Linked DNA regions of Homo sapiens. The protein of the gene in region 3 interacts with the protein of the main gene of each other region in a pairwise test. Each region holds a gene or a part of one and is shown on either strand. Other genes may lie near its edges.

What was found.
Region 1: the proteins of HID1 (region 3) and BEGAIN interact in a two-hybrid assay, tested with the Homo sapiens proteins (one large-scale study listed by BioGRID and IntAct).
Region 2: the proteins of HID1 (region 3) and RBBP8 interact in a two-hybrid assay, tested with the Homo sapiens proteins (one large-scale study listed by BioGRID and IntAct).

Annotation. Positions count from the first base shown.
Region 1 is NC_000014.9:100,563,274-100,566,925, forward strand, and holds part of BEGAIN (brain-enriched guanylate kinase-associated protein), read right to left. Parts: exon of another isoform or gene 3,652-3,652; intron 1-3,651. UniProt on the Homo sapiens protein: May sustain the structure of the postsynaptic density (PSD).
Region 2 is NC_000018.10:22,939,792-22,943,443, reverse strand, and holds part of RBBP8 (DNA endonuclease RBBP8), read right to left. Parts: intron 1-3,652. UniProt on the Homo sapiens protein: Endonuclease that cooperates with the MRE11-RAD50-NBN (MRN) complex in DNA-end resection, the first step of double-strand break (DSB) repair through the homologous recombination (HR) pathway.
Region 3 is NC_000017.11:74,952,907-74,955,817, forward strand, and holds part of HID1 (protein HID1), read right to left. Parts: coding exon 2,886-2,911; intron 2,427-2,885; coding exon of another isoform or gene 2,347-2,426; exon of another isoform or gene 1,536-2,346; intron 1,532-1,535; coding exon of another isoform or gene 1,485-1,531; exon of another isoform or gene 1,460-1,484; coding exon 1,232-1,459; intron 746-1,231; coding exon 639-745; intron 181-638; coding exon 100-180; intron 1-99. UniProt on the Homo sapiens protein: May play an important role in the development of cancers in a broad range of tissues.

The DNA.
Region 1 (3,652 bases), on a different chromosome or scaffold from region 3:
CCTCTAACCACATGCAAACCCAAGTTCAAGTGGATGAAAAGCCAATAGCCTCAGTTCTTCAGGAGGGTTCCTTAAACAAGACACAAACGCTTTAATCAGAAAGTGAAAAAACCTGACACATTCAACAAAATTAAAATTAAGAACTTTTGTTCATAGAAGGACCGTGTGAACAGCGAGACGCGGCGTCCCCCAGGAGGTGTGGCTGCTGCATGTGTAACTGACAGTGTGAAGAGCTCCCACAAATCAATGGGAAAAACACCTTGGTAGAAAATGCGCACGGCCTTCGCCGGTGAGGAAACCCAGCGGGCAGCAAACCAGGGCAGCCCACCCCAACAACGCTGGAGGGACAGTGATGGGGAGAAGCGGTTTCAAGAGTCTGTTCCGATCTTCCAGAGCTGACCCTATGCGCACCCTGTGCCCCGGAGGTTCCACTGAGGGTGCACACCCAGAATCGCAGCCCACATCCCCAGACACCCGCACAGGAGTTTCCTAAGGTGGCCCAGGCTGCACAGTGCCCGGCAGTCTGCCAGGGAACAAACGGATTTCAGGGAAGCCACCATGACAACAGCAACTGGTAGCTCCACCTACCACCACAAGGGACCCTCACAAACAGAATAGTTTTGGTGAAAAAAAGCCACCCCCAAAACACAGGCTGAAGGAATCCAGGTATGAGGTCCCAAAGCAGGCAACATACAACCATCTCTGCTGGGGATGCCCTCTCAGGTGGCAGAACCACGAGGACAGCAAGGAACCACTGAGCACAAGGTCGGTGTCCCGGTGACTGCTTGGAGTAGGATGGGGCTGTCTGTGGGGAAGGGTCTCGGGGGATCTTAGGGGCTGGCCGGGAGCAGGATGGGGCTGTCTGTGGGGAAGGGTCTCGGGGGATCTCGGGGGTTGGCCATGTTGAACTCCTTGACACAGGTGGTGGTCGCCAGGTGGTCGTTCTAAACTTAACCACTGAACTGTGCGGATATTTATTAATGTCTCTGCAGGCCTATCACAGTTCACGACTTTGAAAAATTCTATTTTGGGGGGAAAACGTGGACACCAAACAGGAGTAGCTCTGGGCACCCCAGGAGCCATGAGAGGCGACTGACCCACTTCTCTGTTTGACAGAGGAGGGAACCGAAGCTCAAATAGAAAAAGGGGCTGCCCAGCAGCACGCTGCAGGAGGCAGGCAGGAGGGACCCTGTTTGGAGGGAGAGGAGGGGATTAATTTGAGGGATTAGAGGCACAGAGGCTCTGAGCACACGGAGAGCCAGCCGGGACTTGGTAATATCTATAAATATTTGAGAGTCACAAGAATAGTTTTTCCAAGCAGTCGAAGACAAGATAGCTGAGTGTGGCTGAGCAAGGGTCAAAGGACAAGAGCCAAGGTGGCCAGGCCATCAAATGGTGTGGCTGCATATCTACCATGTGGCCCCCCGGCCTGTGGGAGCCCTACTGTGCGCCAGCCTCTGCCAGGCACTGTGGCTGTCAGAACACCAGGGGCCAGACCCCGGCTCTGTTCTCTGGGGTGCCCATCTGGGGCCCTGGGGAAGACAGAAGACACCCCAGATGTCAGTGGGAGCCCCACTGACCTCCACTCCCCACCCCTTACCTGTCTTCCCTAAACACATCTGCTCTGGGCAGCCCCCAGGCCTTTGCACCTCTTGGAGGGTGGCCTGTCTGTCCTTGGAAACTCCTACCCATTCTTCATGCCTTGGCTCAAGTGTCCCTGCTTCCCGGAAGCTCTTCCCAATACCCCAGGCCAGGGTTCACAACCTGGGACCCCAGAGCATTGTGGGCAAACCCCTTCTGTATTCTGTCCGCTGGCCTAGGAGGATCTGTTGTGGGCCTCTGTCCCCGGCACTGGAGGGCCAACCGGGTCTTTTCACAGAGCTGGTACCCAGAGGGGGCTGGAGTCCACTTGGGAGGGAGGGGCAAGAGCGTCATGAAAACCCCAGGGAAAAGGCGACAGGGAAGACACAGAGTTTGTCATGTGGACAAGAAGGCAGGGAAGGGCATTCTCTACAGCAGGGACTGCGTGGGCAAAGGCAGGGGCATGAAGGTGGCAGCTTGTGGGGAACTCGGAAGCAGGGCGACAGCATGGGGGGGCAGCCAGTGGGAGGGACCAGGGAAGAGAGACCCCTCAATGTACACCTGCCCACCAAAGGGAGCCATTGAGGGCCACAGTGCCACCAGGTGACATGGTCCTTTTGCTCTTCAGCAAATATTTACAGGACTGTCCCATAAGTCAGTCCTGGCTCCAGGCCCTGGGGGGTGTGGGAGAGGAGGGGGCCAGGACCAGCACTCTCAGAGCTCAATCCAGACCCACAGACCCAGCCTGTGATGTGCAGACTCCACAGTCCAGGGGCCAGGAGGCAGGACCGACCATAGGGTCATCCCTGTGGACACTTCAGGACCCCTTCACTGTGACCACCGTGTGGTCTGAGGTTCCCCAGAGACCCTCTACCTGGGCCTGCTCTGGGCCAGGTCCCAGGAGAGATGCTTCCACCACAGGGGCTCACGGCACCCAACATCCCTGCAACCTGGTTGTGGTTAGGACACCCACTTTACAGATGAGAAAACTGAGGCCCAACCAGGGCCAGGACTTTGTCAGTGACTGGGTCTGTGGGACCCCAAACCCTGTGCCCTTCTGTGCAGGAAGCCATGCTGACCAACTTCCCTTCCACTCCCCTGGGCTTTTGGTTCTGAATCCCAGGCACCAAATGCAGGACAGAAACCCACTGGGGCAGCCCCGACACTGGCCAGAAGGGAAGATTCTGGAAAAGCCCTTCAGGCAACTCTGAGAACACTAATTGGGTGAGAGGGAGAGGAGGGCAGGACCCCTCCCCAGTTCTAGGAGTCCTTGCCCCACGCCACCCCTGGCAACTCCAGAAAGGCCACATGGCCCGATGCAGCCCAGGAGCCCAGGCCCTGGCCACTGCCTCCAGCCTTTATGGCTTAGCCCAGGGAAGCCTCAGCCCGCCTGGGACAGCAACGCTGACGCCATCAGCAGCTCAGGCAGCAGATCCGCCCACCTGGCACACCTGCCTACCTGTGCACCCAGCCGGGCGGGGTCATGCCTCTGTCCTCAGTGCCTGGCACACAGGAATAGGTGCCGGAGAGCCTTGGCCGGGCACAGGGAAGGAGGGAAAGAGAAAGAGAACCACCGCAGGGAACCCCCAGGCTGGCCTCAGGGCACCCCATGAATGCTAAGTTTTTCCTCAAGTCTCAGCTGAGTTAAGCAGTGTTTCCTCCCCCCCACAGGCGGTACAACCCAGGTGGTGAAATGACAGCCAATGTGGGGCACCAGGGAAGGGCCCTGGCCTGGGCCAGAGCCTGAGTTTGGGCCTGAGGTCATCTGTGTGACCACAGCCAGGGCTGTCGCTCTTTGGGCCTCACCGCCCCCACCTGGACCTTGGCCACGACAAGGTGGGCCTGGCTGATGGGTATCAGGTATTTGGGGTCTGAGATTGAACCACCTCAGAGACTGGACCCCTCCTCCCAGCACAAGACATGTTGGTCCTGTCCCTGTGGGACCCACAGTGGGGGCTGCACATCAGCTCCATGGCCCAGGAGATGGCCCTGCTCTGAGAGTCCACCCTGGGTCTCTGTGTGAGCCCACCTGCCCCCAGGCTCCCACCTGGGTGTTTCCAAGCCACTCACC
Region 2 (3,652 bases), on a different chromosome or scaffold from region 3:
ATTATTTTTGAGACAGGATTTCTGTCACCCAGGCTGGGGTGCAGTGGTGCAATCACGGCTCACTGTAGCCTTGACTTACCAGGCCCAAGCGATCCTCCTGCCTCAACCTCTCAAGTAGCTGGGACCACAGGCACACACCACCATGCCTAGCTAATTAAAAAAATGTTTTTTGTAGAGACAGGGTCTCGCTTTGTTGTCCAGGCTGGTCTCAGACTCCCGGACTCAAGTAATCCTCCTGCCTTGGCCTCCCAAGTGTGTGCCACTGTGCCCAGCCTGACAGCATTCTTAATAATGAGTGGGACAATTCCTTTCACTGTTAATTTGTGCAGTCTTAAGATAATGTTCTCTTTTTAGAATTTTTGATTCTATGTATAGAAAATAAATGGAGCAATTAAAAAATGAATCAAGAAATATTTATCCTGTCCTATTAGAGCCCCCAAACTTTCCCATTTCTTCAAGGTGTTTCAACTTTGCCTCACAAAACCTACCTAGTTTTCTTTGAAACTGATTACCATATTTACTAGACACAGAAAATATATTAGCTAGATGTTAATAGCAGACGCTGGCATAGGCAAAAGATCATTTATTAAAATAGTGGTATTCTGAAAATAAATATTTTAAATTCTATTTTATTATTTGTGCTTTTGATAATAAACTTGATACTGAAAAAGATTTTTAAAGGCAATAAAATTTTGTACCCAAATAAATATGCTTTAAAACTTTTGAAATTTAAAGAATTCTGAAGTTTCCATTAAATTCTGTGAGTTCGGAATTTAAAGCATAAACACTGTATATCATCAGTAACAATCTGTGACACTGATACTAGCAGCATTTGTCACAAAAGGAACATATCATGAAATGATACAATCATGAAAGGATAAAATTATCTTAAAGGATATAAAAACTCGGTCATAAATGTCTCCAGAATTTTTCAACAAAAATGGTCTGGTTTGCATATTGCTAGTCTCCAACAGAAATTAGAGCATTTTGTCTATTCTTGCCTAGTTTTAAAAGACATGGATGCAGTTTATTATATTGTTGTGATCAGTGCACATACTGTCATATTTTGCTATCATTTTATTATGTTTTGGCAAAAGAGGCAAAAATAATTCTAAACACGTGTAGCAGAGCATTCAGATTCAAGCAAGTTCCTATGGGTACATTTCTGTAGCTAAGTAAAAACTATATATCTCAAATATTACCATTCCCAACATTTCTCTTTTATTTTTTACTGACATGAAGCTTTAAAAGTCATGAGTCAATTTTGATTCCTATATATACCTTAAAACCTGCAAAGTCCAGACAAGTCCATGTTTGATGTCTTTCAAACAGCTTCTTACACTGGTTTCTACAAATGGATTCCCCACCTCCTTAAAAAAATTAAGTTCCCTTCAGGCATGTCTTTGATGTTATCATATAGAGACTCTAATTTTATATGGAACTATGTGGAACATATTGACGAAGGCATGGCCCAAACCAAAATGTTTTAAAATGACATATCTACTTAAAAAATAGTACTTATTCATTTAATACCTTTAAGAATCCATAAGTTATTTGAAATTGGGAAAGTGGCATGATCAATATAACGTACCAAAGATTATCTTCTCTTATGAGCTCATATATCCAATACCTAATATTCATAAAACACATGGACCTTATCATATACACCAACAATTACTGTATTCCTCCCTTAAAGTTATTCAGAGTATAGAAACTTTTGTGGGAATGTGATTAGAACATAACCATGAGGAGTACACTTTAAAGGAATTATCTACTACATAATATTTGCAAGCTTTATATATTCTATAATTTGATAAATATGGCATATTGTTCCTATTAAAGAGTATACCATTTGTTTCTTGATGCTTCCTCACTGTAAAATAGGGATTTCATGAAGATCCTGTAACACCAAAGAATAGGAAGAAGAAATCTGTCAAATATTTTATTTCTATTAAATTAATAGCTTATAAATAGCCAGGCACAGTGGCTCCTGCCTGTAATCCTAGCACTTTGGGAGGCCGAGATGGGCGGCTTGCTTGAGGTCAGCAATTCAAGACCAGCCTGGCCAACATGGTGAAACCTCATCTCTACTAAAAATACAAAAATTAGCCAGGAGTGGTGGTGCGTGCCTGTAGTCCCAGCTACTTGCGGGGCTGAGCCAGGAGAACTGCTTCAACCTGGGAGGCAGAGGTTGCAGTGAGCTGCGATCATGCCACTGCACTCCAGCCTGGGTGACAGAGTGAGACTCTGTTTCAAAACATAAAAAACAAAAATAGAAATCAAGAGTTTCAAGAAAGTTGCAGAATATAAAATCAACTCACTAAAACCAGTTGTATTTCTATACACTAACAATGAACAATCTGAAAAGCAAATTAAAAAAACAATTCTATTTACAGTAGCATCAAAAGAATAAAATACTTAAGAATACATTTCACCAAGGAGACAAAAAACTTGTACAATGACAATCAGAAAATGTTGCTGAAAGAAATTATAGAATGACCAGGTGTGGTGGCTCACACCTGTAATCCTAGCACTTTTGGAGGCCAATGAGGTCAGAGGACTGCTTGAGCCCAGGAGTTGAGACTAGCCTGGGCAACAAAATGAGATCCCTGTCTCTATAAAAAAATAAATTAGCCAGGTTCGGTGGTGCATGCCTGTAGTCCTAGCTACTCTGAAGGTGGAAGCGGAAGGATTGCCTGCACCCTGGAATTTGAGGCTACGGCGAACCATGATTGTGCCACTGCACTCAAGCCTGGGCAATGAGGCAAGACCTCATCTCTAAAAATTAGTAATTAAAAATTAAAAAATCTTAAAAAGAAATATAGACCGGGCGCAGTGGCTCACGCCTGTAATCCCAGCACTTTGGGAGGCTGAGGCGGGCGGATCACGAGGTCGGGAGATCGACACCATCCTGGCTAACACAGTGAAACCCCGTCTCTACTAAAAATACAAAAAATTAGCCGGGCGTGGTGGCGGGTGCTTGTAGTCCCAGCTAGTCAGGAGGCTGAGGCAGGAGAATGGCATGAATCCAGGAGGTGGAGCTTGCAGTGAGCCGAGATCGCGCCACTGCACTCCAGCCTGGGCTACAGAGCAAGACTCTGTCTCAAAAAAAAAAAAAAAAAAGAAATATAGAAGACACTAATAGAAAGGTATCCCGTGTTCATGGACTACAAAACAATATTGTTAAGATGTCAATACTATATAAAGCAATCTACAGATTCAATGCATTACCTATCAAAATCCCAAATCCCAAAATCCCAACATTTTTTGCAGAAATAGAGAAATCTGTCCTAAAGTCAAGGCAAGATGACAATCTCTTCAGCATAGCACATACCATTTTACATAATTTGGATCTATGTACATTTCTAGCATCATATCCTATCCACCTCCCCCAAAACTCCAATCTCCCATTCCATTTCCTCTTAGAACTAAACCTAACTATCCAGAGTTCCTTGAATAAAATCAAGCTCTTATCTGCAAACTTTTGCATGTGCTATTCTCTCTACTCAGAAAATTCCCTCCCCTTCCACCATCTTCCTTGCCTGGCTAATTAGACTTAATTATCAAGCCTGGTCTGACATAAACCATGCACAAACCCACTTCCCCATGCAACCACACACACCCTCAGTTCTTCCTTCATGTTTTCAGATAA
Region 3 (2,911 bases):
TGAGCTTCCCTGGGCCAAGGAGCCCCAACCCAGCTCCCGCCTCAGTACCATCTGCCCAAACCCCAGCCCCCGCTCGCCTGGCACAGGGTCCCTCCTCACCCACTCTGGCGTTGGGCTCCACTGCCCACTGGCTGATGAGGTGGACGGTCGCCGCTGCTCCCTCCATGCCTGGCTGGGCTCCTGGCCCCCAGAAAGGAACAGGGGTGAGGGATGGTGGCGGTGGGTGAGGGGTGGAGTGGGGGGCAATGAGCCCTCTCCACTGGCAGCTGGAAATCCCACAAAGGGGAAGGCCCAGCCCAGCAGCCTTTGCCCCAGGCCCTAGGCCCAGCCCAACCTAGTGACAGGTTTAAGGCCAGCAGCTGACAGGGCAGGCCGGGTAAAGGCCAGCTCAGATAAGGCGGAGGGATGAGAAGTCTGAAGGCCAAGGGCTTCACCGGAACCAGTAAACAAGGGAGGGGTCTGTGAAAGGCCCCCACCCCCAAGGGAGTCAGCAGCGCTGACCCTAATGCCCTGGGCACTGGGTAACTGCCCCTCTGCTGCAGGTGACCCCAGAGTGCCCCGGCCCAGCCCCTACTGCAGAGACCAGGGAGGAAGGGAAGGGCCAGCCACGCCCGGCTCCAGGAGTCCCCGTCACCCACCCCCTTAGCCGGGCTGCCATCCTCCAAGCTCTGCTGGGGCTCAGGTTCCAGGGACCGCAAGGTGCCATCCTCTGACACCTGGGACTTCTCGGTCAGCTTGTCAATGCCTGGGCAGGGCACAGGTGGGAGTGAGGACTCCCTGCCACAGTGACCCTTCTAGCCCTTCCTCCACCCACTTTTTTATTTTTATTTGTTTTACTCCTGCTTCCCTCTGGAACCTCCACCGGCTCTAGAGGCAGTGTCTGATCACTGTAACGCCCTCTCCTGCGCCCATCCCTCCAGAGTCTACACTCGCCCTGAGGCTCTGCCCCCAACACCAAGCTACACATGCTAAGCCCATCCAGTACCCTCCCCCATCCCTGTGCCCATCCCTCCAGAGTCTACACTCGCCCTGAGGCTTTGCCCCCAACACCAAGCTACATATGCTAAGCCCATCCAGTACCCTCCCCCCATCCCTGTTGCCCAGCCCCATCCCCTCGGCTTCCATACATAAGCCATGCTCTTTGCCAGAGATGGGGGTGACACCCCGAGACCATGTCCCTCCCCCAGCCACACCAGTATCCACACTCCTGTCCCATCCACTAGCACCAGACCTGGAGTAGCCACCAGACTGGTCTTGAGGGTGCCTGGCTCTGCAGGGGCAGCGGGGCGGGAGCCCTCCATGGAGGTGCCCTCCTGGGAGCCGGTGCGAGACAAGGGCTCAGGTGTCCGCCGGCGCCGCTGCAGGGCCTTGTGAATGGTGGGCGGGTCCGTGGGCAGGTTGGCCAGCTGGTGGAAGATGCTGCGCTTGCGGATGATGGCGTAGACCAGGTTGGAGTTGCCTGTGGGCAGGGAGCATGCCTCGCCTCAGGGAGGCCCCCTCCAGCTCCCCCCGTCCAATCTGGGTGGGCTTCCTGGAAGGGGGAGTTTGGAGGACAGGAGGGTGTCTGCCCAAGGGGTTGGAGATGGTACAGGGAGCCCAAGAGAGGGTGCTGGGGCAGGGCTGGCACTGGCTGTGTGTGCCCACTATGGCTATCCCAGAATGTCAGGCCTGAGCACCTCACAACACCCCCGCCCCAGTGCCTTTGAGTTCCCGCCACAACCCAGCACTAAACAGCTAACACCTGGCAAAAAGTACAGGCCCCAGCATGGCAGCATCCACGTCAGGCCAGCTGTTAAATATTCTGACTCTCTTCCCACCTCCCCTCGAGCAAGGTGGCCAGGAGAAGTCACAGAGGATCCGTCCATCCCCCAACGCTGACTTCTCCTGGCTCTCAGGCCCCAGTCCCCATCTCTGGTCCTGCCTTATGCCATACTCTTCACTTTCAGTTCCAACATCCCACCCCAGGGCCTTTGCATGTGCTGTCTCTTGCCCCACCTTACCCCTATTTCTCCCTCAGAGATCACTGCAAATTTGCCCGACTTTGGAAATAGCAATAATAGAAACTGATCATTTTTAAGTTGCCAGGCACTGTGCTAAGTGCCTTCTGGGGGTTATTTTGCCCCATCTTCCCAACACCTTCTGAGACCAGGACCCTTAGAACCATTGTTATGAGCACCTTACAGATGAGGGAACTGAGGATCAGAGAGGTCAAGTGACGTGCCCTGGTCACAGGGCTAACGAGTGGCAAGGCTTGAAGTGACAGCAGGCAGCCGGATGTCTGTGACACTGGGCAGACGGGCTGCTAAGATACCCATCAGGGACTTACTACTCTGTACTTCCCTTTTATCACATTTCAGGCCAGATGTGGCGGCTCATGCCTGTTATCCCAGCAGTTTGGGAGGCCGAGGCAGGCAGATTGCTTGTCTCTATTAAAAATACAAAAAATTAGCTAGGTATGGTGGGGGGCGCCTGTAATCCCAGCTACTTGGGAGGCCGAGGCAGTAGAATTGCATGAACCTGGGAGACGGAGGTTGCAGCGAGCCAAGATCGCGCCACTGCACTCCAGCCTGGGCGACAGAGTGAGACGCCGTCGGGAAAAAAAAAAAAATTTCAGATGTCCATCATCTGTTTGAAGCCTCCTTCCCTGCCTCCATCCCCAGCTATGAGCTCCACAGGGCAAGAAGCAAAGCTTTGTTCCCCACTGCATCCCCTGCACCCAGGTACACTGTAGATGCTCAATAAATGTACACTGAATGAATGAACTGGGGGCAGAAGGCAAGCAGGCCAGCACCTCCCAGAGGCCACCTCCTGGGCTGTGCCCCCCTTATGTAGGAAGTAGGCCCGCTGGCCACCCTGACCACCAGGGCCTCAGGCTGGTGCCTCACCATCAAACTGGTACTGGATGATGTTG